3 separate regions of the Homo sapiens genome follow, and all the other regions are linked to region 1. Evidence: fine-mapped expression QTL. A gene starts in region 1. Each other region holds a variant in brackets. All regions are shown on one strand. Distances are between the middles of the regions.

Region 1 (11,077 bases):
CCTCTCAGTGAAAGACTTCATGACAAGGCCACAGCCTTGTCTTTCCAGTTCATACTTAAATTGTACTCCTTTCCCAGACCTCCTGGTTTCTAATCATTCAACCTTGCTTACTGCAGGCCCTTGATCAACGAAACCATTCATCAGTGCCCCAAAGTCCCTCCATATCCGTAGCTCAGAAAACTACCTCTCCGCACAAAATTGATGATCAAGTATGTTTCTTGAAGCTCTTTCAGGGACACCCCCTAGTGAGGCTGCAGCTTCCAGAGAAGCAGGGTTAAACAGCAGCTTTCCTGATTCCATTGCTGTCTCCCTGGAGGGGTATGGCAGACAACAATGAGCAGAGTCAAAAGATGATTGATAGGGTCAAGCCTCAGAGACAGAGAAAATTATAGTGGGACTTAGTTTCCTTCTAACTTTTTTTATTTTAATTTTTCTTTAGAAACAGAGTCTTGCTCTGTTGCCCAGCCTGGAGCATAGTGACATGATCATTCCTTACTGTAACCTCGAAATTCTGGGTTCAAGTGATCCTCCAGCCTTAGCCTTTGGAGTAGCTAGGACTGTGTCCGGAATTGGCGGGTTCTTGGTCTCACTGACTTCAAGAACGAAGCCACAGACCCTCGCAGTGAGTGTTACAGTTCTTAAACGGAGGGTGTCCGGAGTTTCTTCCTTCTGGTGGGTTCGTGGTCTGGATGGCTTCAGGAGTGAAGCTGCAGACCTTTGCGGTGAATGTTACAACTCTTAAGGCGGCGCGTCTGGAGTTCTTCGTTCCTCCCCGTAGGTTCGTGGTCTCCCTGGCTTCAGGAGTGAAGCTAGACCTTCACGGAGAGTGTTACAGCTGATAAAGGCAGTGTGGACCCAAAAAGTGACCAGCAGCAAGATTTGTTGCAAGGAACGAAAGAACACAGCTTCCACACCGTGGAAACGGATGCCAGCAGGTTGCCACTGTTGGCTCGGGCAGCCTGCTTTTATTCTCTTATCTGGCCCCACCCATATCCTGCTGATTGGTCCATTTTACAGAGAGCCGATTGGTCCACTTTACAGAGAGCTGATTGGTCCGTTTTGACAGGGTGCTGATTGGTGCATTTACAATCCCTGAGCTAGACACAAAAGTTCTCCACGTCCCCACTAGATGAGCTAGATACAGAGTGCCCATTGGTGTATTTACAATCCCTAAGCTAGACGTAAAGGTTCTCCAAGTCCCCACCAGACTCAGGAGCCCAGCTGGTTTCACCCAGTGGATCCCGCACCAGGCAGCAGGTGGAGCTGGCTGCCACTCCCACGCAGTGCTCCACACTCCTCAGCCCTTGGGCCTCCGATGGGACTGGGTGCCATGGAGCAGCGGGGCGGCGCTCATCGGGGAGGCTCCGCCCCACAGGAGCCCACAGCAGGGGGTAAGACTCAGGCATAGCAGGCTGCAGGTCCCGAGCCCTGCCCCCCGGGGGAGGCAGCTAAGGCCCGGCAAGAAATCGAGCACAGCAGCTGCTGGCCCAGGTGCTAAGCCCCTCACTGCCCAGGGCTGGCGGGGCTGGCTGGCAGCTCCGAGTGGGGGGCCCGCCGAGCCCACGCCTACCCAGAACAGGCACTGGCCCGCAAGCGCCCCGGACAGTCCCGGTTCCTGCCCCCGCCTCTCCCTCCACACCTCCCCTCAAGCTGAGGGAGCCGGCTCTGGCCTTGGCCAGCCCGGAAAGGGGCTCCCACAGTGCAGCAGTGGGCTGAAGGGCTCCTCAAGTGTGGCCAGAGTGGGCGCCAAGGCCTAGGAGGCGCCGAGAGCAAGCGAGGGCTGCCAGCACGCTGTCACCTCTCAGGACTACAGGTGCACCACCATGCCTGGCTAATTTTTATTTCCTTTCTGATGTTTTAATTTAATTTATGATGTTGACCTAAGAGATGGAAACCAGGGCTGCTCTGGCAAAGACAGGGCTTATAGTTTCCCTCAATGCCAGAAGAGAAGGGAAAAATTTAAAACCATATCTTCTTTCCCTGTTCAAATCACTTCTCACACACATATTCCTTGTATTCTCAGTGAAACCACAAACTTGACCTTCTTGGATCTTTCTTCTTGATGGTTGGTCTATTTATAACATAGGAATGTGTGGACTTACTGACTACATTTCTAGTTAGGCAACCCCAAATTCTGCATTTCCCAACAAGCTAATGAACAAGGCCACCTCAGTGAAGATGGGGTTTCCTGGGTCTCACCCCAACTGATTCCCTCCATCATCTTAAAGCAAGTCACTCAATACCAGGCCTCAGCTTCCTCAACTACAAAAGGAAGGCAATGAACTATGTACTCAATAGAACTACAATCTTTCTACCAGTTGAAATACTTATTTTCTTTTTTTTTTTTTTTTGAGAGGCAAAATCAATTACTTCCTTTTCAATTGTCCTCTGGTGCTTTATTCCAATTTCTATTATATTTAACACTATCCTATTGCATTACAATTAGTTGTGTGTCTGCCTCTTTTCCTCATAAATTACAGGTTCCATAAAGACAGGCGTTGTATTAAATTTACCCTCGTATTCACAGCATTTAGTATTATGCTTGGCACTGTATTAGGCTCTAAATACATATCTATTGAATGAATAAATATGTAAGCTACTTTAAAAATGCCCATTCAGGCTGGATGCGGTGGCTCATGCCTGTAATCCCAGCACTTTGGGAGGCTGAGGTGGGCATATCACGAGGTCAGGAGATCGAGACCATCCTGGCTAACACGACGAAACCTCGTCTCTACTAAAAATACAAAAAATTAGCTGGGCGTGGTGGCGGGCACCTGTAGTCCCAGCTACTCGGGAGGCTTAGGCAGGAGAATGGCGTAAAACCCAGGAGGCAGAGCTTGCAGTGAGCCGAAATCGCGCCACTGCACTCCAGCCTGGGCGACAGAGCAAGACGCTATCTAAGAAAAAAAAATGCCCATTCAGAAGTTCCAATTAGTCATTTACATATTCCTTTCCTTTCCCCCCCAAAAAAGAAAAACCAAAACACTCTATCTCAATTCTAAAATCGGGGCAAGATTTGAAAATTGATTAAATCAAAGGCAGTTTGGTTTTAAGATGAATTGGAGTAAATCCTACACTTAAGAAGGAATCTTCCAGCACTTTGGAAGGCTGAGGTGGGAGGATTGCTTGAGGCCAGGAGCTCAAGACCAGCCTTGGACACCATAGCGAGACCCTGTCTGAAAAAAAACAAAAAAAACTCTTTCCTTCTTCCTCACCTCCATCTCCCACTTCCTTCTGAGTTTATTGTCTAGAGTTAGTCATGCCTTAGAACATGCCCATGAACAATCTCCCCACATTTTCCACCCTAACTCCCATCCCATTAGAAAATCAATACGTATTTCACAGGTCGCGGTGGCTCACGCCTGTAATCCCAGAACTTTGGGAGGCTGAGGCAGGCGGATCATCTGAGGTCAAGAGTTCGAGACTAGCCTGGCCAAAATGGTGAAACCCGTCTCTACTAAAAATACAAAAAAATTAGCTGGGCGTGGTGGCATGCGCCTGTATTCCCAGCTACTCAGGAGGCTGAGGCAGGAGAATCGCTTGAATCCGGGAGGCGGAGGTTGCAGTGAGACGAGATCACCCCACTGCACTCAAGCCTGGGCGACAGAGCGAGACTGTCTGAAAAAACGAACAAACAAAAACACGGGACCAACAATGCTCATTCTAGAGTTTGACATTACCTAGATCAGACTTGAAGCAGCTTGGTTACGAATCATTTGAGAGATCCCGAAACGTTCACAGAGCTGGAAGTATATTTTCAGTAGGGAAGAAGACATTCTTCAGATAGTATCATCAAGTGTACAAAATTTTTAAAAGATTTATTTACATATATCAAAGCATCACATTGTACCCCATAAATGTATGCAATTATGATTTGTCAATTAAAAATAGTATTGATAAAAAATGTAATGATGTTATTTGTAGACATGTAACATTTGAAAATAAATATAATTGTACTGATTTAGAGTGAACTAAGGAAATTTCATTTAAATGGCAAAGGAACATATGGTGACAGAGTAATATTACTAAAAATACTCACTAGAATTTTCCCTTAATATCTTTCCCTGATTTATGTGACATAAACAAACTACATAATGGTGTGAGGGACTATAAAGGTTTTATTGCCACTTGTTTGGTATTGCCTGCGTAACTCACTCTGAGTGCCAGTTGTGGGTATCTCAAACTAAGTGTCATAAAACATTTATAGCATGCCACTCCATTTCCTATACTTTTCATAGAGACAAAACTTTAGCGCTCACAAAAGTACTTATAAATATAATAGCTAGTTGTGAAAACTTTTTAATTTAGATCCCACATTTCCAGTTTGCAGGAAGAAAAATAAATGTAATGAAGATTTACGTTACTTCTCTGCATGAACTCAGATTAGTTCGCAAATTCCTTTTCAAAGAAAAACCACTTTTCAAAGATATCCTCAGTAAATGCATTTTGTAATTAACATAAAATTGGCAAAGTCGCTGTGCCTACACGTTTGAATTCATGTGTAAATAACGACTACTCACTTCCTTGCTTCCCCACCCGGGGACCAGGCTCCAAGCATCACAGGTGCAGAAAGACTTGCAAAAAGGAATGAATAGGAACAAAAGGATGTAGGCGCCAGGAGGAAAACAGGATCTTCCAGAACAAAATTAATCTCGCAAGGCATAGCAGATCCAACACCAGATTATTACCAAAGTTTAAACTTTTTCAATGGTCATCAGAGATAGCGTATCAAGTTTATTAGGTCTTTCACTACGGCTGATTTGCTTAAACCTTTATGTTATGCTTATCTTGAGGGATAGATTTCTGTGCTAAGCACATAATAGGTGTTAAACCAATATTGATTTTTAAAAGGAGGTGGTCATTAAATAGAAATTTTACTGTTATTTTAACCTTTAAATTTATGGCCCAAGGGCCAAACGATGATTTGTACGATTCCCTAGTTTCAATACTTGTGAGTTATTACAAGAAATACAACTCTGCTATGCAACAGAAGAACCGCAAATAGTCATTAAATTACCGCACACCAAGCAGCTTGGAGATCAGATAGGAAATGTTTGGGGAGAGAGTCCTGCTGAAGTTCCAAGTCTCAAACAAAACCCCTCAACATCAGAGTGCATGGTGAGTTTAAATTTATTGTAATTAAAGTCATCCAGATGGTAGTTGGATTAATCAATGAAGAGGTGGTTATCTATCTTGGGATAGAAGATTCTGAAACCCAGAGCGAGAAAAATCCCCAAGGTGGGGGTGGGGACAGTTAATAAGAGCCCTTGGGAAAGGCCCTTTCAGCGAGGATTGGAAAATAATACGTTTGAATTTGAATCTCTTTGAATATAAATCTCCCCTAACAGCAGGAAAAGGGTCCTCTAGCCCAGCAAGCTTTGGGGAGGGAGTAAGCGGAACTGCAAAAGAGCTCGCTCAGCTGTTTCTGGATTGGGGCGCAGAGAAAGAAATCGCGATCAGGGAACTGAGTACTGGAGTCCCTCAAAATAACCCGAAGGGTCAAATAGTGAGCTCCAAGCAAAGCGTTGACCCGGCTACCCCTGAGCAGCGCCCTACGCTGGGTTCCACTCCACTTCCCCTCCCCCGCGCGGGGCGATAGCCAGGCGCGGTCCCTTCCCACGCGGGCCGCGGCGAGTGCGGACAGCTCCCTTCCGGGCTGCGGAAGGCGGGAAGTCTGCGGTTCGCGGGCTCCGGCTGGCGGGCGCCCCTCGGAGTCCCTGAAGTCGGCCGGGCCCCGCAGGACCCGCGCCTTCTCGGCCCCAACTGTCCCTCGCGAAGCGTCCTGCGGTGGCGGAGGCCTCGCGGCCGCCCGCCAGCCCCGCGAGCGGCAAGCGCGGGGCTCAGAGGGGAGGCGGGGCAAGGCCGCGGGGCGGAGGGGGGCGGGAGGTGCATCCTGGGAAATCCACCAACATGGGGCGCAGCGGCCGCCGCCGCCGCCGCCGTCGCCGCGAGTCCCGGCCGCGGGTGCCTCCGCTTCCCTGACGCCCAGCTGGGGCCTCGCCGCCCGCCGCGGCCCGGGTCTTTGCGGCCCAGACTCGCCAGCGCGCCCTTCTCCCGCCTGCTCGCCGGGGCCATGTGAGGGGGCAGCTCCCTCCACCGCCGCCGCCCCCTCTTCCTCCCCCGCCCCCTCTCCCTGCCCGCCCCCGTCACACGGAGCCCTGGAGGATCCCCCGCTGCTGCCCGCCCTCCCTACGCCACCCCCACGATGGACAGGAACTACGCGACCTCGGGCTTCACCGAGCCGCCGCCGCCGCCGCCGCCCGCGCCCCCCGCCGCCCCCGTCCCCGCCAGCGCCGCTGCGCAGCCCCCCGCCCCAGCCTGGGCGTACGAACCCCGAGCCGCCGCCGCCGCCGCCAGCAGCAGCTGCAGCAGTGGCAGCTGCAGTAGCGGCAGCAGCCCCAGCCTCAAGGCCAGGTAGGGAGGGTGGGCGGCGGGGTCGCGGTGGACCAGGAAAGGCCGGGGATGCGTTTGGGGCCTTCGCTCGGTTGCAGCGCCGCCCAGAGGTCTGGGCCGGGCGGGGAGCCCTCCGCTCGCCCTCGGCCAGCTCGGGGGAGGCGGCTGATGACTCCTACGGGGTGGTCGCGGGTAGGTGGGGGCGCCCGGTGCAGGATTCGCGCCTGGGGACGGCGGGTGAAGGAATAGCTGGGCGGGAGTCGTGGGGCTCCGTCACCTCTTGGGTCCTGGGCTCTCACATGGTGAAGTTTGGGCTCGTGGCTGAACTCGGGATCTGTGAGACCCAGGATTGGCGCCGGGGGTCCGAAGGGGGCGCCGGAGAGTTTGGGGCAGTGGCGATCCATTGTATTGGAACCTGGGTGGCCGACAATGCGGTCTTGGGGACTCCGGCGTGTGAGGGTTGCGGAGGCGGGAGAGGAAGAGTCGCGGAACCGCGTCCCGGAGACACTGGGGGGCCCGGGAGGGCTGGGCTACGGGAGAATCCCCGGGGCGCAGGGCAGAAGAGGGGGCCCGGCAGGGCGCGAACGCGGCTCCAGGGCCGGGTGACATATGTTTGCGCTGGTGGCCAAGATTTAGGCGATTTTTCTTCCACGCGTTCAAAGTTGCTCTTAGGTTTCCTCCCCTTTTAACAACAGCAGGAAGTAAGGAATCTTTCTTTGCCTTCTATGCCTCGGGGTGACTGAGAGTTGGGAAGAAATGGGGCGGGGGTTGGGGTGGGGGTAGTGAAGGCCGTAAAGGTTGAAGAACCAAAGCATGCTTCTCCATCTCGGCCTTTAAGGTCCGGGTGCATTATGTAGCGTGGGGTTCAAGAGTTCATCTTGCATGACCAAGGGAATCTAAAATTTTGACTCCTACTTGATATTTAAGCTCGCGGGAAATGTGTAGTAGTGCCACACTGTGAAACGGTCCCATTTGAATGATAACTGGAAGGCGTGGTCTGGTTTGGAGAATTGGTGAGCGGGGTGTTTTAAAGCCACCTCTCCCGAACAATACAGAATCTGGTAGGTGCAGCTTCTGATTACATGGACCAGGGAATCCTGGGTTGCTAATGACTTCATCCTCAGCTACCAACAGGAAGCTTCGTGGCTTTATGATCTCATCAGATTTCTTCATTATTTTTCACGACAGAAGTGAACTTTTGTTTTAAGTTTATACATTACCGTGTTCCAGGTTATCTTCTTTGTTTTTACGAAAGTTCTACGTTCATGATTGAGCAAATAAGTGTGAAGGGTAGCTGGTCTTTGTCTTAGATTGTCCATTGGGACGATTGTGAAAGAATGAGAAAAATTTGCTTCAAGAATAGGAATATAAGCTTTCTCAGAAAATTTTAGGCCCTTTGTTTTCAAGACTTGGGAGTTAACAAAAATAATGTGATGTGCCAATTTGGAGCTAAGTAATTAAATGCTGAAACCTTTCAGAAATAGCCATAATTTTGTATTACATACAAGTAAGCCATTTTAAGGAGTTTCATGAAAGACGTTTGGCACTTCACCCATTATTTCTTGCTGATGGTAATTTGACTATCTTTTTCAAGTAGCTTTTTGCATTGACTAGGATAATTTACAAATGAAAATTACTTTCTCATCATTGAACAGCATGATAGGTATTTGTGCCGCATTTTTTATCTTTTAAATGAAAAATATTTATTAGGTAAATGGAACTGAAATACTACCTAGTTACTTCTTTTAGTAGAATACTTCTGAGGCAAGAAACTAAAATCTACTTGTCATATTTTCCAAATGTTATTTATCAGAGTAACACGAAATGACTTCCCAAACACACTTGAAAACAGTAAGTAGATTCACTTGGCACACATAATCTAAAGGAGATTTATTTTCTGTTTACTAGAAGTTATTGAATCTTAAATATTACCCCTCATGCCCTCTCCCCCTGCTTTTTTAAAAAATAAGCGGTGGGGGGAATCAGCTAAAATACAGCATAGAAAATGCAGGTTTACCCCCCTCCCCCGCCAGCCTGCTTTGTTAACATCTTGTATTGGGATCAGGCCATCTGTACAGAGTTACACTTCTGAATTATACCTCATTTTATTCCTCAAACTGTGCAAATATTCCCTTTGATTTCAGTTATATCAAAAATGGCAAATCTGAAATATGCCTTGTAAGTCTAAATATTCTACACTTCAGAAGCTTATTTATATTTTTATACCATTTTAAAAAGCTTTTTCATAATGCACATATCAGTTGAATGTTTTTGTTCCCCTTTGTGGCAGTTTCTTGTGAAGGTGCAAATGAGTACTAGTTGTGATGATGTAATATGGATACTTATCCATAAAGAATTAGCCTGTCTGTCACCTTGTTTCCTGTAACCTATTCAGAAGCTGACAGATGGTAATGACATTCAGTTGTTGCCGACAGGGATCTAACATCCTACTTTATGCCTTCTTGGTCTTGAAATACATCATTTTCATCAGTTGATGGGAAGGTACATGATAAACAGCTTTTCATGAGTTTGAAACAATACTTTTTTGAATACAACAGCTCTGTTAGTTATTAGGTAGTTTTATTGTACTAACAGTGGAAAAATAGAGTGGGAAACTCCAGCATTATACCTTAAATGGGGCTTATAGAAAGATTTTTGAATATTTCTCAGAGTACTTGCTAGGTACTTGGAAAGTACAGGGATAAGGACTGGCCATATAAATCTTCATTTATTTATGCTAATTTCAGTTCGTTTTAGGAACTAAATGAATGAACATGTCCTTTGCTGAACACCACGCAGTTGGAAATACCTTTTGGGGTGCAGTTTTGGATGTTGTAAATACCTTTGCATAGCTTGGGAAATAAGAAGGTCATCAAGAGTCTGCAGATCCATTGCCGCATTCTGTACTTGATACTTATATCTTGGTCACAACAGGAAGAGGCAGGCTGTTTTATGGTGATAATCGATGTGTTCGTATTTGAATATGCACCAGAAAGTAAGGGAATGGAAATATTTTGTATTTAAATAGGTTTATTTATTTTATTTTATTTTATTTTTTGCGATGGAGTTTCGCTCTTGTTGCCCAGGCTGGAGTGCAACGGCGTGATCTCAGCTCTCTGCACCCTCTGCCTCACGGGTTCAAGCAGTTCTCCTGCCTCAGCCTCCTGAGTAGCTAACCACACCTGGCTAATTTTTGTATTTTTAGTAGAGATGGGGCTTCACCGCATTGGCCAGGCTGGTAATTTTTGTATTTTTAGTAGAGATGGGGTTTCACTACATTGGCCAGGCTGGTCTTGAACTCCTGACCTCAGGTGATCCGCCCATTTTGGCCTCCCAAAGTGCTGGGATTACAGGTGTGAGCCACCGTGCCTGGCCTGTTTTTTGCCTTTCTAACTTGAAATAACTTTTGGCACCAGTTTTTAGAATTCCTAATGCATACTTTTTTTTAGTATGAGGTATAATGAGTATGATAAATACTCCTCTGAAAAACCAAAGTAATGATTAGCTCTTCTAAAACCTGTCAGTTTCTATATGATGGACATTTGTTTGATACATTTCAAATCTAGAGTTTTCCTCAAGGTTTTTGGGAAAAGGCCTTATAGATCATAATTTGTAAGGCGTAAGAACAATCTCAAGTTAATGAAAGGTTATTTCAGACAAACTTCCACTGTTAGAGTTCAGAAAGTTTTTTCCCATGGAAACCGTGTTGTAAGTAATAGTAGCTGTCATTTACATCACTAGCAACTAATTTGTGCTAGCTGTTTTAAGTCACACGTACATTCATTTATCAAAATTCATTTATCATGAATAAATGAATACATACATTCATTTATCAAAATTCATTATAAAAATCCTTTGAGGTAGGCATTCTTTTTACCATCCTTTTATGGATGAGGAAACTGAGGGATAGAGACATGAAGTAATTTATACCTACAGCTACATAGCTAGTAAATAGTGGTGCTGTGATTGAAACCTGGGCATTGCAGATCTGGAGCCTATGTGATAACCAGTGTACTGCACTGCTTTATTGTAAGATAGTGGAATGCTGTAATCCACCTATATGTGAAATGAGTTTCTGTGAGTTGGCCTGGAAACCTAAGCATCATTAATATCCTTATTTAAGTGTTCTTTGTCACCGTTGACCATTACCTAGTTGAAATACATTCCTTTTCACTTCCATAGCACTGTACTTGCCTGGTTTTCCTCCTACTTTTCTGGCCCAACGCTTTTTCCTGTTCTTCACTGGTGTTTACTCCTCTTCTGTCTAATCTCTGCATGTTACTGTTTCCTCAGGGCTTGGGATTGATAAATTTCTTGTTCATTCCTTGCTTTCTCCTGCGGACTCACATCCACGTCCATGCTTTTAAATACTATCTCAGTGGAGATGCCCATATTTGAGCAGACTCTTCTCAGGACCTCAGACTCTTCTGAAAACCTGATCACATAACCAACTACCTCTTTGACCTTTTACTTGAGCTTAATGATATGCTTTCCCCACCCATCACACCTCTGCTTCTCTAGTGAGGCCCATCTCAGTAGTCATACCTCTGTCCACTTAGTTGCCCAGGCCAGATGGTGGGAGTTGTGTGTGCTCAGTCACTAAGACCTACTGTTTTGAATCTAATGTCTTGAAACTGTCTGCTTCTTTTGTATCCACTGCTCCAGCTGGTCCAAGCCACCATTA
Region 2 (11,077 bases), 58 kb after region 1:
TTTTATCAGAGACTAGGATTGCAACCCCTGCCTTTTTTTGTTTTCCATTTGCTTGGTAGATCTTCCTCCATCCTTTTATTTTGAGCCTATGTGTGTCTCTGCACGTGAGATGGGTTTCCTGAATACAGCACACTGATGGGTCTTGACTCTTTATCCAATTTGCCAGTCTGTGTCTTTTAATTGGAGCATTTAGTCCATTTACATTTAAAGTTAATAGTGTTATGTGTGAATTTGATCCTGTCATTATGATGTTAGCTGGTTATTTTGCTCGTTAGTTGATTCAGTTTCTTCCCAGTCTCGATGGTCTTTACATTTTGGCATGATTTTGCAGCGGCTGGTACCGGTTGTTCCTTTCCATGTTTAGCGCTTCCTTCAGGAGCTCTTTTAGGGCAGGCCTGGTGGTGACAAAAGCTCTCAGCATTTGCTTGTCTGTAAAGTATTTTATTTCTCCTTCACTTATGAAGCTTAGTTTGGCTGGGTATGAAATTCTGGGTTGAAAATTCTTTTCTTTAAGAATGTTGAATATTGGCCCCCACTCTCTTCTGGCCTGTAGAGTTTCTGCCGAGAGATCCGCTGTTAGTCTGATGGGCTTCCCTTTGAGGGTAACCCGACCTTTCTCTCTGGCTGCCCTTAACATTTTTTCCTTCATTTCAACTTTGGTGAATCTGACAATTATGTGTCTTGGAGTTGCTCTTCTCGAGGAGTATCTTTGTGGCGTTCTCTGTATTTCCTGAATCTGAACGTTGGCCTGCCTTGCTAGATTGGGGAAATTCTCCTGGATAATACCCTGCAGAGTGTTTTCCAACTTGGTTCCATTCTCCCCATCACTTTCAGGTACACCAATCAGACGTAGATTTGGTCTTTTCACATAGTCCCATATTTCTTGGAGGCTTTGCTCGTTTCTTTTTATTCTTTTTTCTCTAAACTTTCCTTCTCGCTTCATTTCATTCATTTCATCTTCCATTGCTGATACCCTTTCTTCCAGTTGATCGCATCGGCTCCTGAGGCTTCTGCATTCTTCACGTAGTTCTCGAGCCTTGGTTTTCAGCTCCGTCAGCTCCTTTAAGCACTTCTCTGTATTGGTTATTCTAGTTATACATTCTTCTAAATTTTCTTCAAAGTTTTCAACTTCTTTGCCTTTGGTTTGAATGTCCTCCCGTAGCTCAGAGTAATTTGATCGTCTGAAGCCTTCTTCTCTCAGCTCGTCAAAGTCATTCTCTGTCCAGCTTTGTTCCCTTACTGGTGAGGAGCAGCGTTCCTTTGGAGGAGGAGAGACGCTCTGATTTTTAGAGTTTCCAGTTTTTCTGTTCTGCTTTTTCCCCATCTTTGTGGTTTTATCTACTTTTGGTCTTTGATGATGGTGATGTATAGATGGGTTTTTGGTGTGGATGTCCTTTCTGTTTGTTAGTTTTCCTTCTAACAGACAGGACCCTCAGCTGCAGGTCTGTTGGAGTACCCTGCAGTGTGAGGTGTCAGGGTGCCCCTGCTGGAGGGTGCCTCCCAGTTAGGCTGCTCGGGGTTCAGTGACCCACTTTAGGAGGCAGTCTGCCCGTTCTCAGATCTCCAGCTGCGTACTGGGAGAACCACTGCTCTCTTCAAAGCTGTCAGACAGGGACATTTAAGTCTGCAGAGGTTACTGCTGTCTTTTTGTTTGTCTGTACCCTGCCCCCAGAGGTGGAGCCTACAGAGGCAGGCAGGCCTCCTTGAGCTGTGGTGGGCTCCACCCAGTTCAAGCTTCCCGGCTGCTTTGTTTACCTAAGCAAGCCTGGGCAATGGTGGGCGCCCCTACCCCAGCCTCGCTGCCACCTTGCAGTTTGATCTCAGACTGCTGTGCTAGCAATCAGCGAGACTCCGTGGGGTAGGACCCTCCAAGCCAGGTGCGGGATATAATCTCGTGGTGCGCCGTTTTTTAAGCCCGTCAGAAAAGTGCAGTATTCGGGTGGGAGTGACCTGATTTTCCAGGTGCCGTCCGTCACCCCTTTCTTTGATTAGGAAAGGGAACTCCCTGACCCCTTGCGCTTCCCGAGTGAGGCAATGCCTCACCCTGCTTTGGCTCGCGCACGGTGCGTGCACCCACTGACCTGCACCCACTGTCTGGCACTCCCTAGTGAGATGAACCCGGTACCTCAGATGGAAATGCAGAAATCACCCGTCTTCTGCGTCGCTCAGGCTGGGAGCTGTAGACCGGAGCTGTTCCTATTCGGCCATCTTGGCTCCTCCCCCTGTTTTAATTATTAATTTGACTCTTTTGTATTGTGTTCAGGGAATATGTTCACATTTTGAAATTTATGGAAATTTTGTTAGTAGTTTGGTAAATGGTCCATTTTTATAGATATTCCACTTTTTATAAATACTAAGTACTAATAGATTTCATTAATAGTGTTCAAATCCTTTATATCTTTTTTATTTAATAAATGATATTAGGTTATTTAAGAAAATGTTTATATGTGTGTATATTTTGGAGATAAATGACATGTATGGAATTTGGCTTAAAATAGCCCAGCAAATATAAAAGGGAGTGATGGATAGATTAAACAGATGAACCAAAATGTTTGTGCTTGTTACAGCTGGGTTATAGTAGGGTTTGTATTCTCTACTTTTGTGTAGTCTAAAATTTTATAATAATAAAAAGTTTTAAAACTCCTCTCTACCCTTATTTGTTTTTAGATTGCTTGATCTGTTGATTCCTGAGAAAGGTGTGTTAAAGTTTTCCATTATGTTATATTATTTTTCTAATACTGTTTACTTGATATTTTGAACCCATGTAATTCAGTGCATAAAATTTTACTACAGTTAAATTTCCTTTTATCATAATAAAATCTCTTTTTCCCACTTAATGATTTCTGTTTTTAATACTGTCATACTAATGTTGTTATTAGCATTTTTTTAGTATTTTTCCATATCTATGTTTTCTTTTGGAACATTTTTTCTTGCGAAATACAACCCACATGTGAAAATCAAACATGCATAAAGAAAAATACAAAACAAAACTTCCACAGATTTGAAAATGCAGACATTATTCAAGCAGTATTCCCTGGGTACAGTGCAGCCGTTTCTAGAAAGAACAAAGAAAGGAACAAAGAAAAACTCACCCTTCCAAATAACTCTTGGCTTAAAAAGGAAACCAAAACTGAAATGACAAACTAATTGGAATGGACAGTGGAGCACTGTATACTGAAACTAATAGGATGTGGCCAGAGTGTGATGTGAAGAAGCAAATTTATAGTGTTAAATGTCATTCACTGGAAAGCAAGAAAATATCGAAATTAATTGAGTATTAAATTAAACTCACTCTTAACCTCTAGAGCAAATCACTAACTGACTTGGATGGTAATCACTTCCTTACTTAATATAATTTTACCATCTATGTATGCATCTCTAAAGACTATACTTTTTAGCTGGGGAAACATAGTGAGAGCCTATCTCTACAAAAAACAAAAAAACAGTTAGGTGGGCATGTTGGCATGTGCCTGTCGTCCTAGCTAATGTGGAGCCTGAGGCAGGAGTATCGGGTGAGCCCAGGAGTTTGAGGGGGCAGTGAGCTGGGATCACACCATTGCACTCCAGCCTGGGTGACAGAGCTAGATGCTATCTCTTAAAAAAACAAAACAAAACTATTCTTTGGTTTGTTTTAAAACTTCCTACAAAGGGCATATAAATAAAGTATTGATGAACTTTCCCTCTACTAGAAGTTATACATTCTTTTTTTAAAAAAATTTTGCTTTTTTCATAGAAATTTTCAAACATATACAAAAGTACAGAGATTGGCATAATGAAACCCAATTCTGGGGGCATCATCCATTTCAATAATCATGTGGTCCATCTTGCTTGATTCATACCTTTATCTAGGTGCCCACTCCCTGATTATTTTGGTGAAATATTTCTTTTCTTTTCCTGGTTACAATAGAAATTACAACATGCACTTTTAGCTTCTCCAAATCTGTCAATATCTTCCTTTTTCTGGATAATACAGATTTTTTAACACTGGAGCTCCATTTAATCCCCTCCTGACATAAATGTTATTGTTACTACATATTTAATTCTATCATCATTAATAGTCTTTTAAATAGTCATTTGTTTACATTTACTTATATATTTCCCAGTTTACCCTTCATTCATTCTTGTATCTCATAGCTTCTCCTTGGGATTATCTGACTAAAGCAGACTAAATACTAAAATACCTTTAGTATTTCCTTTTCTCAGAGTCTGCTGCAGCATCTCTGTTTTTGTTCACAGATAACTATGTGACTTGTTTTGACATATAACTTAGAAAGTATTTGTAGAAGTCAGTGACATTGCTATAACAAAGTCACTTTTATTCCTTAATTTACCCATTATTTATATGAACATGGTTTCTAAGTTTTTATATCAATAAAAGTGAAGGACAAATAAAATTGGTTGTAAAATCTATCTCAATAAGTACTGTCCATGTATCCATGTATGAATAATTTTTAAGTGCCATGTCCAACAGAAGCATGAGTTTTACATTTAATACTTGTCAAAATGTGAAAAGATAGTATAATTTGGATCAACTATGCAATTGTATAATGTTAGAAATGTTTAACATTTTGAGCCTTCAGTTACAAGACAAATCAGTTTCCATTTACATACATATTTTTGTGACAGAAAAGTATGACAATGTAACTATAGCATTATAGAAATATGTTAGGATAAAATAACATAGTATGGGCTCCTAACGTGATTAGAATATTCATCTGTATTTCCTCAACAGGTCTTTTCCCTTGAGTGGGAAATGTATAAATATATGAGAATAGCTTTAATTTGGGACAAGAACAGGTAGGCTGGCTGGTAGCAACAAGGAGGTCTTTATTTGTCAAGCACTTTAGTTCATGGATTTCCCCTGCCAGTCTGCATTTCCACTTTTTCTGTGTTGGAAGTCTGGATTTGCCTCAGGCCCTGCTTTGGTTTTCTCTCAGCTCCTCCACCACTCTAGGCAAGTAGAATTCACTCTCTTCAGAGTACAGCTTTTGCATTTTAGCCTATGGTCAAACACCCCTTCTGCCTACAGCTTAGTACAATTAAGGGGATCACTGGCCTTCCCTTTTTTTTTCTTTTTTTGAGAGGGAGTCTTGCTCTGTCACCCAGACTGGAGTGCAGTGTTGCAATCTAGGCTCACTGCAACCTCCGCCTCCCAGGTTCAAGCGATTCTCCTGCCTCAGCCTCCCGAGTAGCTGAGATTACAGACCCCTGCCATCACACCTGGCTAATTTTTGTATTTTAGTGGACACGGGGTTTTACCATGCTGGCCAGGCTGGTCTTGAACTCCTGACCTTAAGTGATCTGCCCACCCAGGCCTCCCAAAGTGCTGGGATTACAGGCATGAACCACTGTGCCTGGCCTGGCTTTCCCATTTTTATTTACTTATTGTTGTATATGTGATTATTTTAGTTCATCAGTATTATTCAGACTTACCACTGGAATTTTACATGTTATTTATATTTGTTCCTTAGCCCAAAGTTCCTCTATCAGCTGTGGTATTTGAAGTATTTTTTAATAGTTTTATTGAATTATAATTCATATACAATAACATCCACCCATTTAAAGTGTACAGTTCAGTGGTTCATAGACTTGTGCAGCATTTGTATCATTCAAAGAGAAACCCTGTATCCATTAAGGAGTCCATTCCCATACCCACACCCAGCTATAGGCAACCACAAATCTTTCTCTCTCTGTAGATTTGCCTATTTGGGATGTTTCATGTAAAGGGAATCCTATAATAAGTGACCTTCTGTAACTGGCTTCTTTCATTTAGCATAATGTTTTCAGGGTTTATCTATGCTGTAGCATGTATCAGTATCTGATTCCTTTTTATTCCCTAATAATATGGATATACCACATTTTGTATATTCAGTTATCCATTGATAGAGTTTTTGGCTATCATGAATAAATCTGTAAACATTCATTTACAGATTTTTGTATGGATGTTTATTATCTCTAGGGTACACATCCAGAAGTGGAATTCCTCAGTCATATATCTGCATGGTTAATAGAGGAATGGCCAAACTATTTTCCAATGTGGCTGTACCATTTTACATTTTCATCAGTGATCTATAAGGATTCCATTCATTCCACTTTCTTGCTAACATGTGTTAATGTCTATATTTTTAATTATAATCATCCTAGTAGGATGGTTAACTATTCTTTCTCTATTGAATGGTTCTGGCACCTTTTTTGAAAATCATTTGCTCATAAGTATAGGAGTTTCTTTCTGAACTTTCATTCTATTCCATTGATTTGTATCTATGTCTGTGTCAGTATCACAGTCTGTATTTCTATAGCTTTATGGTAAGTTTTGAAATTGAGAAATGTCAGTCTGCCAACTTTGTTCTTTTTTCAAGATCATTTTGGCTATTCTGGGTCCCTTTCACTTCCATATGAATTTTAGGAACAATTTGTCAATTTTTGTAAAAAATGAAGCTCAGATTTTTATAGGAATTGGGTTGATTCCATAGGTCAGTTTGGGGAACACTGCCATCTTAACAGTGTTGCGTCTTCTCATCCATCAACATGGGATGTTTTTCCAGTTATACAGATCTTCTATGATTTCTTTGAACAGTGTTTTTATAGTTTTTACAATGTAAGTTTGCAGTTCTTTTGTTAAATTTATTCCTAAATATTACTTTTGATGCTATTAGAAATGGAATTGTGTTCTTAATTTTATTTTTTGGGTTGTTCACTGCAAATGTATAGAAATACATGTGATTTTTATATATTGGTCTTGTACCCTGCAATCTTGCTGAACTCATTTTTTAGTTCTAATAGTTTTTTAGTATATTCCTTGGG[A/AT]TTTTTTTTTTTTTTTTGAGATGGAATTTCGCTCTTGTTGCCCAGGATGGAGTGCAGTGGTGAGATCGTGGCTCACTGCAACCTCCGCCTCCCAGATTCAAGCAATTCTCCTGCCTCAGCCTCCCAAGTTGCTGGGATTGCAGGTGTGTACCACCATGCCTGGCTAATTTTTTTGTATTTTTAGTAGAGATGGGGTTTCACCATGTTGGCCAGGCTGGTCTCGAACTCCTGATCTCAGGTCATCCGCCCGCCTCAGCCTCCCAAAGTGCTGGGATTACAGGCGTGAGCCACTGCGCCCAGGCCTTGGGATTTTCTATATACAAGATCATATCATCTGCAAATATAGCTTTGCTTCTTCAGATATCCTTCTTAGGAGGAAAGCATATACAGTTTTCACCACTAAGTATGATGTTAGTTACTGATTTTTTCTAAATGTCCTCTGTAAAGCTGGGGAAGTTCCCAGGCTGTTGAATGTTTTTATCATAAAAGGGCATTACATTTTGTCAGATGCTTTTTCTTCACCTATTGAAATGATCCTGTGCTCCTATGCTGTTTTCTATTAACACAGTGTATTACATTGATTTTCAGGTGTTAAATTAACTTTGCATTCCTAAGATAAATCCCACGTGGTCATATTGTATGATTCTTTTTGTATGTTGGTGGATTTGCTAGTATTTCATTGTGGGTTTTTGTATTTATATACTAAGGGATATTAGTCTATAGTTTTCTCATGCTGTTTTTGTCTGGTTTTGGTATTGGAATAATACTGGCCTCACAGAATGAGTTGGGAAGTGTTTCCTCCTATTGTTTGGAGTTTATAAAAGATTGATATCTTCTTTAATTGTTGATAGAATTATCCAGTGAAGCCATATGGGCCTGTGCTTTTCTTTGTGGGATGTTTTAAAATTACTTTTTTTTTTTTTACTTTGTATTGGGGTATTCAGATTTTCTATTTCTTCCCAAGTCTTTTTTTTTTTTTTTTTCCTTGAGACAGAGTCTCTTTTGCCCACGCTGTAGTGCAGTGGCACAGTCTTGGCTCACTGCAATCTCTGCCTCCCAGGTTCAAGCTATTCTCCTGCCTCACCCTCCTGAGTAGCGGGGATTAAAGGCGCGCACCACCACGCCCAGCTAATTTTTGTATTTTTAGTAGAGACAGGGTTTCACCATGTTGGTCAGGCTGGTCTCAAACTCCTGACCTCGTGATCTGCCCGCCTTGGCCTCCCAAAGTGCTGGGATTACAGGTGTGAGCCACCGTGCATGGCCCCAATCTTTTTTAGTATTTTGTGTCTTTCTAGGAATTTATCCATTTCATCTTAAGTTATTTAATTTGTTGGCATACAGTTTTTCATAGTATTACTTTATAATCATTTTAATTTTGATAGCTTCTAGTGCTGTTTCAGAATGTTTTGGGTTTTTTTTTTTCCCACATGTATTTGGTTTTTCATCTTCTATGAAGAGTCACAGTTTTGGTTGGCCGACCCTTCCTTATCTTCTATCACTTTCATGTCTTTATTTTTATTATTATTATTTTTTTAAGTAGGGTCTTGTTCTGTCACCCAGGCTGGAGTGCAGTGGCACTATCATAGCTCACTGTAACCCTTGAACTCCTGGGCCCAAGCAATTTTCGCATCTCATCCTCCTGATTAGCTGAGACTACAGGCACACAACACTATGCTCGGCTAATTTTTTATTTTTTTAATAGGGCTGGGACTACAGGTGTGAGCCACTGTACCCAGCCTCTTCTTTTAAAAATAATTTTGCTCTACTTACATGGAATTGGCAGCGGGAGGATAGGTAGATAGTTGCAGGTTTGCAGTCTACTTGTCATCTAGACTTAATTCTCACATCTTTGATTCTTGGAAATTAACATCTGTTGTCTAATTTCTTCCTGTGGTTTTGTTTCAACCAGTTTGATTACAAAATAATCAAGTCTTTCTTTTTAAACTGTTTTGAGTTTTACACAAAACAAGTGTTTAAATATTTGTAATACTGATTTGCATTTGCTTGGTTTTGTTTCAGAAGCCCTACAGGTGGCAACTACTAGCCCAACTGCCAATACTACTGGTACTGCTACTACTTCCTCAACCACTGTGGGTGCAGTTAAGCAAGAACCTCTCCACTCTACTTCATATGCAGTAAATATTCTGGAAAATATAAGCTCTTCAGAATCCTCAAAGCCCATTGAACTTGATGGTCTTCCTTCAGACCAGTTTGCAAAAGGACAGGACACTGTTGCCATAGAAGGTTTTACAGATGAGGAGGACACAGAAAGCGGAGGAGAAGGCCAATACAGAGAGCGTGATGAATTTGTGGTAAAGATAGAAGACATAGAGACTTTTAAGGTGATGTCAGTGTTCACCAGTGTAAAGGTCATAGTTTAGTTAGTGTGCCTGCGATAGCCTTCATTATGACTTCAATAGCATGCATCTACTTTGAATTATGGGAAGTTTTATGCATTATAAGTGTTTGATAAAATCAAAATATTAAGAGTAGATGTCAGATATCATTGAAGATAATTTTAACCTTAACTTAGTTGTACGTATTTCTGTACAAATGTAGTCAGTTGCATTTCAGTATTAGTAATTATAGTAGTTTTAAAATGTTGACTTTTTTCAAGGTTCCCAATTCATTATTAGTAGTTTGGAGAAAATCGTTATTTATATAATTTAAAAGTTTAAACAAAAATAACAGAGAACTATCATGTAAAAGTAGAATTAGATTTAATTTCATAATTTCAAGTTGTATAACCATGAAGAGAATGTAATAATTTTATGTAAGAAAGTTGTAGCTGTGTTTAAAATAACATATTTTGGGGTTTCTGTTTGCTTGCTTTGCTTTTTTGCCTTTTTATGTATTTTTTAAAATAGAGATGGGATCATGCTATGTTGACCAGGCTGGTCTCAAACTCTTGGCCTCAAGCAGTCCTCCCATCTTGGCCTCCCAAAGTGCTGGGATTACAGGCATGTAATCCTCATGCAGTGGCATGAGCCACTGCATACAGCCACTTTTGCCTTTTTAAAAAACATGGGAATGACGTTAAAAAGTGCAGTGAAGAATCCAACATTCAAGTGTCTGTATTCTCACTATTCACAGTTAACTACTTTTAATATTTTAATGTATTTGTTTATGGTCTTTTAAGATATGTATATATACATAGTTATAAAATTGCATATGTAACATAGGACAGTGTCATTAGCAGAAAACTTTCCAATAGTTTTAGCTGCACAAATGGGTAATGGGCTACTTTGTGTGCTAATGAACTCCCTATTTCTGGAATAATTTAAGCAGAGACTGAATAACCTAACCAGCTTATAAGAATTATTGCAGAATATCAGATAGAGAGGTGAGATAAAAGGTTGAGCTAGGGTAGGCCTTTCAGATTCCTTTCATCTCTAATATTCTAAGATCTAAAATATGTTGCTGTGTTTTGTAAGTATCATTAATTCTGGTTATTACAGGAGGCTTTAAAAACAGGAAAAGAACCTCCAGCTATTTGGAAAGTACAAAAAGCTTTATTACAGAAATTTGTTCCTGAAATTCGAGATGGTCAAAGAGAATTTGCTGCTACAAATAGTGTAAGTAAAATGCATGTTTACATTAGCCTTATTTTGACAGTGGTCCTGAGAAAAACAATGATTTAAATATAGAAGTATTTTATATTGAATATTTTTGATATAAAGTAGCATATAATTTGAACTAGAATATTGATGCTCTTTGATAGTCTAATATAAAAATAAAGTCATTTGTTAAATATCAGCTATTTAAAATTAAATGACCTTGTACTATTGTTTAACTTTTTTTTTTAATAAAGGAAAGGGATTAATGTTAGCCTATGAAGAGTTCAGATTGACTCAGAGGCTCCTTTATATTGATTATTCTACTAGTCAAATATCCTGATTTACCAGAAGACTGATGGAAGTTATTCTGTCATACTTAATGTAGCTGGAAGTAAGAATATGCCAAATGAGATTGCTTGTACATATGAAATCAATAATGAGCCTGGGATCAGTTTTTGAGGGTAAAATTAGCCTGGCCAGAGCTGCATTTTAGAAAACTTGAAGGTTGGCTATGGGATAGTCAATTGAACAAACAAAGTAGCATTTGTATCTAGATTGTTCAATTATGTAACTCAAAGTGTTTCCTTCCTCAGTATCTTGGATATTTTGGAGATGCAAAGAGTAAATACAAAAGAATATATGTGAAGTTCATTGAAAATGCAAACAAGAAGGAATATGTCAGAGTGTGTTCTAAAAAGCCAAGAAATAAACCTTCA
Region 3 (11,077 bases), 74 kb after region 1:
AAAAAGAAATATATAATCAGAATAGGTAAGGAAATTCAGTGCCTTGAATATGCATAGAAGGCATTATACATAATTTTTGCAGTTAGCAGTCTTGCCTACTGCTTAGAATCAAAACGTTTGTTCTGAATTTGCTCTCAATTATAGTTTCTTCAAATGACAAGGTAACATTTTCTTCCCTTGGTAATTTGAGTGACCACTAGGTGTCACTAATAGTTAAGCAAACATTTTTAGGCCTTTTTGTTCCTTGCTTTACATTCTCAGGCTAAAGAATGTATTTAGTTCTCTTAAGAAGTCAAATATTGATAATAAACATATATTCATAGGCTGGTGATTTTCAGACTCTTTGTTTCAGGACTCCAATGGAATCTTCAAACACATTGAGGATTCCAGATACTTTGGTTTATGTGTGCTAAATCTATTGAAATTTACTAAATACCAATTCAAAGTTTTAAAATATTTATTTAAAATGAACCCATTACTTATTAATGTGAGGTGTTTTTTTTAAAACAACTATACTTTCCAAAACTAACAGTATTTAGTGAGATAAGTGCATATCTGCTTCTACATTCAGTTTGTTATTATATGTTATTTTGGCTAAAGTATCAAGAATATCCGTACTTAACTGAGAAAGCAATGGAAATACTCCTCCTGTATGTAGTTAGGAAAAGGAGGAGGATTTCAATTGCCTTCTCAGATACTCATAGATACTCCTGATACTGACAAGTAGTAGTTTCTTGAGTTTTCATGCTATTACATTAAAATCTATTGGTTTGTCTTAACTTTACATATCTCTCATCCATGCATGGTTTTATAACATTGTTCATTGGTCATGTGAAAATATTAGTTAGCTCAGTGATATAGATCTTCCAATAATTAATTTTTTTCACACTTTAAAACACTGTGGTTAAATATAAATTTGCCTTTTTAACCATTTTTAAGTGTACAATTTATTAGCATTATTTACATTCACACTGTTGTATAACCCTCACCTATATTTCCAAAACTTTTATCATCCCAAACAGAAACTGTAACCATTAAGCAACAACTACTTATTCTCTTTTTTCTCTAGCTACTGGTAACCTCTAATCTGTTTTTCCTCCAGCTACTGGTAACCTCTAACCTATTTTTTGTATTTGTGATTTTGCCCATTCTAAATATCTCATATAGGTGGAATTATACAATATTTTTCCTTCTGTGTCTGGCTTCTTTCACTTAGCAAAATGTTTTCTAGGTTCATCCATGTAAAAGCATATATCATAACTTCATTCCTTTTTATGGCTAAGTAATATTCCATTGTATGTTTACACCACATTTTATTGATGGTATTTGGGTTATTTCCTCCTTTTGGCTAACTGAATAATTGGTGTAATGAACATTGGCATACAAGTATCTAAGTTCCTATTTTCAATTTTGGAGGCATAGACCTGAAGCAGAATTGTTACTATTGTCACATAATAATCCTATGTTTAGCCTTTAGAGGAACCATCAAACTGTTTTCCACATGGTTACACCATTTTATATTCCCACCAGGAAAGCATGACGGTTCCAATTTTTCCACATCCTTTGCTAACACTTGTTATTTTCTGTTTGTGTGTGCGTCTTTTTAAAGTCATCCTAGCAAGTGTGAAGTGGTATCTCATTGTGGTTTCAGTTTGAATTTTTCTAGTGACTAATGATGTTGAGCATTTTTTCCATGTCCTGAGCATTTTTTCTATGTCCTTATTGGCCATTTGTATATCTTCTTTGGAGAAATGTCTATTCAGATCCTTTGCCCATTTTAAACTGGGTTATTTGTCTTTTTGTTGTTAAGTTGTAGGAGTTTTTTAATATATTCTGGATATTAAACCCTTAATCAGATACATAATTTGAAAATGTTTCCTCCCATTTTGTAGGTTGTCTTTTTCACTTTCTTGATAATATCCTTTGATGCACAAAAGTTTTAAATTTGGATGAAGCCCAATTTACTTATTTTTTCTTTTGTTACTCAGCTTTTGTTCACATAGAATCCATTGCCAAATCCAAGGACATATTTACTCCTACATTTTCTTCTAAGAGTTTTATGGTTCTAGCTCTTAAGGTCAGATATTTCATTTTACACTATCAAAAAATAGCACTCATCAATTCTATGAATGATCTCATTAATGAAGTCTTTACAAATTGGGAAGCTCAGACTCACAGTGGGGATAGAAGATGTCCAGAACTCTAATTTTCACTTGAAATCTCAAATTTTATCATTGGCAACAAATACCATCAGTTGTTTTCCTTGAATGAGCAGATTCTCTTAATTTATTTTTAAGAATAAATTAAGGTCTGCCAAATACCCAAGTCTGGATAGGCATAGTGTATCTGTCAGTCATTCTTTCAAATAAAAATCTTGTTTTCTTGGGGGAAAGAATGGCTAGTTTATCTTGTAACTCACACAACTGTATGGGTGCTCCTCCTGGTCATACCCATTATATTTATGCAGAAGTGCTTTATGTGTACCTGCTATTTCATCACACAGAATATTAAAAAGACATCTATTCAAGAATAGAAATTTCATAAAATTAATAATTACTTCTTCGTCAAGGACTATTAATTTTTATTTTGTTTTATCTTTTTTTGAGACAAGGTCTCACTCTGTCACCCAGGCTGGAGTGCAGTGGTACAAACAAGGCTCACTGCAACCTCAATATCCCAGGCTCATGTGATCCTCTCACCTCAGCCTCCTGGGTATCTGGGACTACAGGCGCTAATTTTTTTGTATTTTTTAGTAGAGACAAGGTTTTTCCATGTTGCCCAGGCTCTGTTTGTTTGTTTGTTTGAGACGGAGTCTCGCACTATCGTCCAGGCTGGAGTGCAGTGGCGCGATCTCGGCTCACTGCACCGCCTCCCAGGTTCAAGCGATTCTCCTGCCTCAGCCTCCCGAGTAGCTGGGATTACAGGCGCCCGCCATCATGCCTGGCTACTTTTTTGTATTTTTAGTAGAGATGGGGTTTCACTATGTTGGCCAGGTTGGTCTTGAATGCTTGACTTCGTGATCCACCCGCCTCGGCCTCCCAAAATGCTGGGATTACGTGCATGAGCCACCGCATCCAGCCTTGCCCAGGCTCTTTTTAAATTTTGTATATTTAGAGAGAGGTCTCACTCTGTCACCCAGGCTGGAGTGCATGGTGTAATCATAATTCACTGTAACCTCAAACTTCTGGCACAAGCAATCTTCTCACCTCGGTCCCCCAAGTAGCTAGGACTGACTACAGGTATGCACCACCATGCCCAGCTAATTTTAAAGTTTTTTGTAGAGACTGGGTCTTACTATGTTGCCCAAGCTAGTTTTAAACTCCTGGCCTCAAGCCATTGTCCTGCTTCAGCCTTCCAGAGTGCTGGGATTATAGGCATGAGTCACCTCACCTGGCCCTAAGACTGTTCTGGTTGTTAATTAAGAGATGGGGTCTTATTCTATCACCAGCAGGAGTAGAGTGGCACCTTTTTAGCTCACTGCAGCCTTGAACTCCTGGGCTCAAACAGTCCTCCTACTTCAGGCCCCCAAGCAGCTAGTACTACAGGCGCATGCCACCACACCTAGCTAACTTAAAATTTTTTTTTGTAGAGACAGGATCTCACTATATTGCCTGGGCTGGTCTTGAACTCCTGACCTCAAGCAATCTTCCCACTTTGGCCTCCCAAAGTGCTGGTATTATAGGTGTGAGCCACCATGCCCAGCCCCTAGGACTATTCCTAAGTGAAACTTTTTCCCCCTCCAAATACATGGTAGTGAGTGACATGACAAAGTCATGCAAAGTATATTACTGTTAGTACAGTTTGTTGTCATTGCCTTGATTCGTGGGGTAAGGCACCATCAATTTTACCCAGTAGTAGTTTTGCAAATGGCAATGCAGTGAAGAAAGTACATAGTATCTTAATATTATCATGAAAACAGTTTTGATATCAGAGACCACCAAAAGGGTCTTGGGGTCCCCCCTGGGGTACAGTTACTTTAACAGCTGCTATTTAAAATACATACACCTACTATAGGCCAGGCACGGTGGCTTACAGCTAATCTCAGCACTTTCAGAGGCTGAGACAGGAGGATCACTTGAGGCTGAGAGTTCAAGACCAGCCTGGGCAACATAGTGAAACCCTATCTCTAAGAAAAAAAAAAAACACCATATATATATATATATATATATACACACACACACACACACACACACACACACACACACACACACATACACACACATAAACGCACACTATATACCCACAACATTAAAAATATTTTAAAAACTGCTATTTAAGGGTGTGACTTGATTATATATTTGAATACAAAAAGTCAAAATTGAAACAAACTTTTTTTTTTTAGATGGAGTCTTGCTATATTGACCAGGCTGGTCTTGAACTCCCAGGCTCAAACAATCCTCCCACCTCAGCCTCCCAAGTAGCTGGGACTACAGGTGTGCACCACTGCACCCAACAAGTTAATGTCATAGTTCTTTCCATTGGATTTGAATGAAATTTTCTCTGTGCACAGGCTGTGTTTACATTAAAATGATTTTTTTCTTTTTTTCTTTTTCTTTATGAGACAGGGTCTTTACTCTGTTTCCCATGCTTGAGTGCAGTGGCGCAGTCACAGTTCTCTGCAGTCTCAACCTCCGGGACTCAAGCAATCCTCCCGCCTCAGCCTCTTGAGTAGCTGGGAATAGTGGTACATGCCACCACACACGTGGCTAATTTATATTTTTTTTAATTGAAACGATGTCCCACTATGTTGCCCAAGCTGGTCTCAAACTCCTGGGCTCAAGCAGTCCTCCCACCTTGGCCTCCCAAAGTGTTGGGATTACAGGCACGTGCCACTGCACCTGCCATACTTTAAACATTTTTAATACATCCTAGGCAAGAATTTTATAGTAATTTATGTCTAGGAATAAAAAGGAAATCTATGTATTACTCATACATTGGATGTCATACAATTTCTTTACTACTAAACAGAGAAACCATCAAGACTACAGTAGCACCACCTAGCAGCAGATGTCTGTGGTGGGATCCAGCAGAAGACAAATAGTTTCTTACCCAGTCTACTTTTTCTGGTGTTGGGCTTCAGAATCACCTAGGAAGGGCCAAGCGTGGTGGCTCACGCCTGTAATCCCAACACTTTGGTAGGCTGAGGCAGGCAGATCACCTGAGGTCAGGAGTTCAAGACCAGCCTGGCCAACATGGTGAAACCCCCTCTCTACTAAAAAAATTAGCCAGGCATGGTGGTGTGTACCTATAATCCCAGCTACTCGGGAGGTTGAGGCAGGAGAATTGCTTGAACCTAGGAGGCGGAGGTTGCAGTGAGCCAAGATGGCGCCATTGTACTCCAGCCTGGGCAACAAGAGTGAAACTCTGTCTCAAAACACACACACACACACACACACACACACACACACACACACACGAATCACCTAGGAAGCTTTTTAAGAGCATAATACTTAAGCTTCATCACCCTACCACGACCACCACCACTACCAAAGATTCTGTTTTAGGAAGTCCAGCAATCTGGTTTTTGTTCTATTGTTAACAAAGCTCTTCAGTCATTGTCATGTGCAAACCAGCTTTGAGAACCTCAGACCTTTTAAAGGTAAGGTGAGAAAGTCTTGAATTTGAAGAAATTGTATCTGCAATCTGCTTCTAGGGTCTCGTTATAGAGAAAAGTGTTTTTAAAATTGTCAGGAAGGAAAATTTAATATTTAACCCTTTCTCCCTCCCAGAATTTGAACCTCCCGCTCCCTTTGTCACTCGCTTTTTGAACACAAGAGCAATGAAGGAAACCTTTAAGAGCTACATGGAATTGCTTGTTAGCATTGCCTTGGACCCTGACACAATGCAAGCCTTAGAGAAGAGCAATGGTACAGTCTTCTAAGTAGTACTTCCTTGGTAGTACTTCCTGGAATTAAAAAAAGAAATCTTGT[CTGTTAGTTATATGTT/C]TATATGTGACTTGTGTAATATATACCTATAAATTGTCAGTTAAATATATAGCATCTTAATTCCATAAAATGGTCATATCTTTTCATGCATTCTCTGAATATTTGAACTTTTATTGCTTTCTACTCATGGGAAAATTGTATAGCTTCTAACCAGTTTCTTCCAATTCTAGAATCTAATCATCCTCATAAATAGTTTACTAAGTGTTAGTATTACATGAAAGGTCTGTATGTCAGTATATTTTATTTTCCAATAATTGGAAAGATGAACCAGATAAAAGTGGCATAAAGATTAAAATCATATACTTGTATCTTTTGTAAAAGATACATCATAGCAATTATTTTCTAATCAGTTAAAATTAGTATTAAACCAGTAAATGCACTGGGTTATACCAATTAATATTATTCCTTTTAGTTATTTGAGAAATCTCCATACTGTTTTCCATAGCAGTTGCACTAATTTACATTCTCACCAGCAGTCCCAGTACTGAGTATCTACATAAAGGAAAATAAATAATACCCAAGAGACACCTGCACATGTGTTTATTGCAGCACAGTTCACAACTGTAAAGATATGGAAAGTGCCCATCAGCCGATGAGTGAATAAAGAAAATATAGTGAATACTATTCAGCCATAAAAAAGAGCAAAATAATGTCTTTTGCAGCAACTTGGGTGGAACTGGAGGTCATTATTCTAACTGAAGTAACTCAGGAATGGAGAACCAAATATCACATGTTCTCACTTATAAGTGGGAGCTAAGCTATAGGTACACAAAGGCAGCGTGGTATAATGGACATTGGAGACTCAGAAGGGGAGAGGGTGAGAAAGGGGTAAGGGATGAAAAACTACTTATGGGGTACAATGTACACTACTTGGGTGATGGATGCACTAAAATCCCAGACTTCACCACTATACAGCTCATCCATGTAACCCAAACCACCTGTACCCCTAAAGCTATTGAAATTTTTAAAAAGTTTTTTTTAAAGAAGAAAATAAAAGGTACAGTAAGAATATGGCATTATAGTCTTATGGAACCACCATTGTATATGTGGTCTGTCATTGTCAAAAATGTCATTATGCAGTGCATGACTATATACTGTTTTATTATGTTCACATACTTAGACATATATTCTAATTTAACCTTAAAACAACTTAGACAGCCATTTTGTGGATTAAGACAGGTTCAGAGAGGTTAAGTGACTTGCTTAAGGGCCCACAAACTTGAAACTGGCAGAGAAAGGATTAAAATTAAAGTCTTCTAATTTCTGGTCTAGTGCTTTTCTTACCACCTAATCAGAGACAGTAACCTGTATATCAGTCATTTTCAAGTAATTAGGAGCTGGAAGGGACTTTAGATATTACCTAGTCTGAAACATTTATTTTGTAAACTAAAGTTCAAAAGAGATTAAAGTTAAAGAACAGGTTAGAGGTTGAAGAACCATGATTAAAACTCAGCTAATCCCAGGTCAGCATTTTTGCTATTAAATGTTATATTCCTTGCATCATAAAATATGCTTCTCTTTGTAGTAGTCATTTCTGTATAGTTGTATTTTGAAAGATTTTTAAAAATTGCTTATCAGTGTTTTCTGATTTTTCTCTAAGGGGAGAAAATTTTTTAAGATTATTTTTAAATCACAAATGTTTAAAACTTACTTTTGTAGAATGTAAATACAGTATTAGAACAGATTGAATCACTAATAGAAAGACTATGTAAACAATCATTTTACTTAGCTGTGAAACTTGTGACCTGGATTCTGGGTTGTTGTTTTTTTTCAGAAGGTTATTAGAGGCAGTTAGTATTATAAAATATAATAAAGTACTATGCTGGTAAATTAAGAAAGAATCTAATAATCTAAAATGTTTAATGCTACACCAAAACTAATTATATTCTAAAAGTACTTTTCTTAATGGAGCTTAAAGTTCAGAGTGGTGACACTGAAAGCCAAAAGCTTTGAATAGGAATCTTTGTCATAATTTTACTCTCCCCTCTTTTTCTAAAATAACTATTTTGATTCATATTTTTGGTACTGGGTTTTGATCATTTTTCTTCCCCTACTTTTTCTTTGCTTCAAGTTAAAGTGACTTAATATCCCTTGGTCATACTCAGTGTTTTGTTAGATCAGTTTGTATTTTGTAATTGTTCAGATTGTTCAGAGGGTAAATGAGGTCTGGAGGAATTAGGCAGCTTGCCTATTCGTCACATAGCTGCCACATATCAGTTCTATTCAGTTAAAATCCAGTTCTAGTTTATCCAGCAGTTGTAGTTCAGCTAAAACTTAGAACTTTGGATCCTCATGTAGTGCTCATCCCATCATCATACTGAGCTGCCTCTTTCTCACTTGCTACTATAAACCTACTTTTCAAGTTAACCTTTGTTCAGAAAGCTTCATGTCCAATTTTTTTGCAATCAGTATTTTACATATGCCAATGAATTTAGTGTATTTTAATATATAAATGTTTTGAGAAAAAGTTGGATTTTTTTCAAAAATATTTATTGATAGTTTATCCTGTTAAATTATAATGTTGTTTCAGATGAGCTACTTTTACCTCATATGAAAAAAATAGATGGCATGCTAAATGATAACCGAAAGAGACTTCTTTTGAATCTTCATTTGGATCAATCATTCAAGGTATTTCCTTCTGATGACTTATTAGCAAAACTCAATGGCAGTCATAGTCTTAAGTATAATAGGAAGGAAATTTATGAAAATTATTCACTTACAACATTTTTCACCTAATGAAAATTTGGCTTTTATTCATTGTAAGTCCATTTAGTTTGTCTGCTTAGTGTTAATCACTTGCTTTTCTCCACTTAAATTTATTTTTTAGGCATTTATAGTTATCTATTATATCTTCTATAAAATAATTTCCAAATGTTCTTTTAACGCTTTTCAAAATTTTTACATTTTGTCTGTAATTAAAATTAGCTTTTCCTTAGCACAGTTATCAAAATTCACCGTACTTGCCTCATTTATTCAATATCAGAGGAAACGCTGATTTTTATAAGGGTAGGAAATGTATATAATTCTATATGTTAATATATCTTGGCAATATAAGTTGGTTTTGGTGTTATCAGAAATATAGAAAAAGCTAATCTAAACTCAACTCAGATAATTTTTCATAGAAGCTAACTTGGTAGTTTAAAAATTTCTAGCTTTTTTTCTTTTCTTTTCTTTTTTTTTTTTTTTTGAGACAGAGTCTAGCTCTGTCATCCAGGCTACATTGCAGTGGCACAACCTTGGCTCGCTGCAACCTCTGCCTCCTGAGTTCAAGCAGTTCTTGTGCCTCAGCCTCCTGAGTAGCTGGGACTACAGGTGCCCACCACCACACCTGGCTAATTTTGGTATTTTTAGTAGAGACAGGATTTTACCATGTTGGCCAGTCTGGTCTCGAACTCCTGACCTCAGATGATCCGCCCACCTTGGCCTCCCAAAGTGTTGGGATTACAGGCGTGAGCCACTGCACCCGGCCGAGCTTTTTATTTCAGTTGGAGAAAAGGCATGCAAATTTATTAACGTGCACATGGGAGAGAATCACAGAATGATTACTCCGTAGCCTTTCTTATTCAAAGTATAATATCACATCAAGAATCATTTGGTTATATCTACCTTAGGGAACATTTTTTAATTGATGGTAACAATATTATACATTTGTATAACTTGTTCACATCCCTGTTTTATGTGAACTCCATGTAAAAGTGAGTATTGACTTCATTTCAATTAGGTGAAAACTGAGGCCATTAGATTGCATTCAAAATTAAATGACACAAAACTATCATAGTAGTCATGTATTCTTCACTGCCATGTATTCGCAGGAAGAAAAAAAATTTAGAAGCTAGTAAGAAATCCAGTACTAAGAATTTGGTCTCCTGACTCCTAGTCCAGTTTTTGTTTGTTCGTTTTTGTTTTTGAGATGGAGTCTTGTTCTTTCGCCGAGGCTGGAGTCTAGTGGTGTGATCTCAGCCCACTGCCATCTCCACCTCCTGAGTTCAAGAGATTCTCCTGCCTCAGCCTCCCAAGTAGCTGGGTCCACAAGCATGCACCACCACATCTGGCTAATTTTTGTGTTTTCAGTAGAGACAGGGTTTCACCATGTTGGTCAGGCTGGTCTCGAACTCCTGACTTCAAGTGATCCGCCTACTTCCGCCTCCCAAAGTGCTGGGATTAATAGGCATGAGCCACGGCACCCAGCCCTAGCCCAGTGTTTTCTGCTTAACTGCTGCCTTTAAATAAATGAAATATTCTCTTGTGAAATACTATATTTTGTGGAGACAAGGGAACATTTTTAGATAGGTGTTTTCTAAAGATTTACTAAATCTTAAAAATTACCAGGTTTGGCTAATCACTGTTGAAATGTCAAACCAGTTCTCTAACAAGATTTCTAATTCTGTTATTAGTTATTAATTTTGATAATTGTCATATAAAGCAATTTGCTTTTTTTTTTTTTTTTTTTTTTTTGAGACAGACTCTCGCTCTGTCTCCTAGGCTGAAGTGCAGTGGCGCGATCTCCGCCCACTGCAACCTCCTCCTCTCCTGCCTCAGTCTCTGGAGTGGCTGGGATGGCCTGGCTAATTTTTGTATTTTTAGTAGAGACAGGATTTCACCATGTTGGCCAGGCTGGTCTTGAACTCCTGACTTCAAGTGATCTGCCTGCCTCTGCCTCCCAAAGTGCTGGGATTACAGGTGTAATCCATGCCCAGCCTTAGCAATTTGCATTTCAAAGCAAAATTACATAATATTAAGAGTTAGACTGATCTGAAGTAAAATATTACAAATAGTAGAGAAAGAAAGATTTTTCTGTTCTTTAGAAATAATTAGTGTGCTTTCCTATGTTGATCTTGGTGATGTTAGGAGTCCTGAAGCTTTTTCAAGGTAATGATGTTCTGCCTTTTTCTGAAATCTGTGTACTTCAGATCATCTTAAGCATTTTGTGGTCATTGGAAAGATTTAAATTTTCTTCTTTCATCTCCACTGACTTAGTGTGTGTTGTTTCCAAATTTAGAATCTTTAGACTTTAAATTCTATTTGTTGCAAATAATAATTCTGGATCCAAAAATTGTCAAGGTGCATGTTTTAAATAGAAAACACCAGAGTACATGATAAGTGCACAAATAATCTGAGAAAGGAACGAAGCT

The links.
Region 2: its variant is fine-mapped to the expression of QSER1 in monocytes (Quach 2016, PIP 0.91).
Region 3: its variant is fine-mapped to the expression of QSER1 in whole blood (INTERVAL, PIP above 0.99). The same link has a PIP of 0.9 or more in T cells.

Annotation. Positions count from the first base shown.
Region 1 is chr11:32,886,921-32,897,997 of GRCh38, forward strand. QSER1 (glutamine and serine rich 1) reads left to right here and starts at 5,891. Exons shown (of 13, transcript NM_001076786.3): 1 at 5,891-6,414. The coding sequence starts at 6,206. RefSeq lists an enhancer at 4,242-4,816 and silencers at 5,564-6,183, 6,264-6,663.
Region 2 is chr11:32,945,034-32,956,110 of GRCh38, forward strand. QSER1 (glutamine and serine rich 1) reads left to right here. Exons shown (of 13, transcript NM_001076786.3): 5 at 8,824-9,146; 6 at 10,263-10,379; 7 at 10,955-11,077. Among named protein-coding and RNA genes, the nearest start is that of QSER1, 58 kb to the left of the region's middle. RefSeq lists a silencer at 1,925-2,075. The variant A/AT (reference allele first, on the strand shown) is at 6,805.
Region 3 is chr11:32,960,571-32,971,647 of GRCh38, forward strand. It overlaps QSER1 (glutamine and serine rich 1), which reads left to right. Exons shown (of 13, transcript NM_001076786.3): 9 at 5,730-5,867; 10 at 8,476-8,573. The region is part of intron 2 of LOC105376615 (a long non-coding RNA gene); the gene reads right to left. Among named protein-coding and RNA genes, the nearest start is that of DEPDC7, 50 kb to the right of the region's middle. The variant CTGTTAGTTATATGTT/C (reference allele first, on the strand shown) is at 5,931.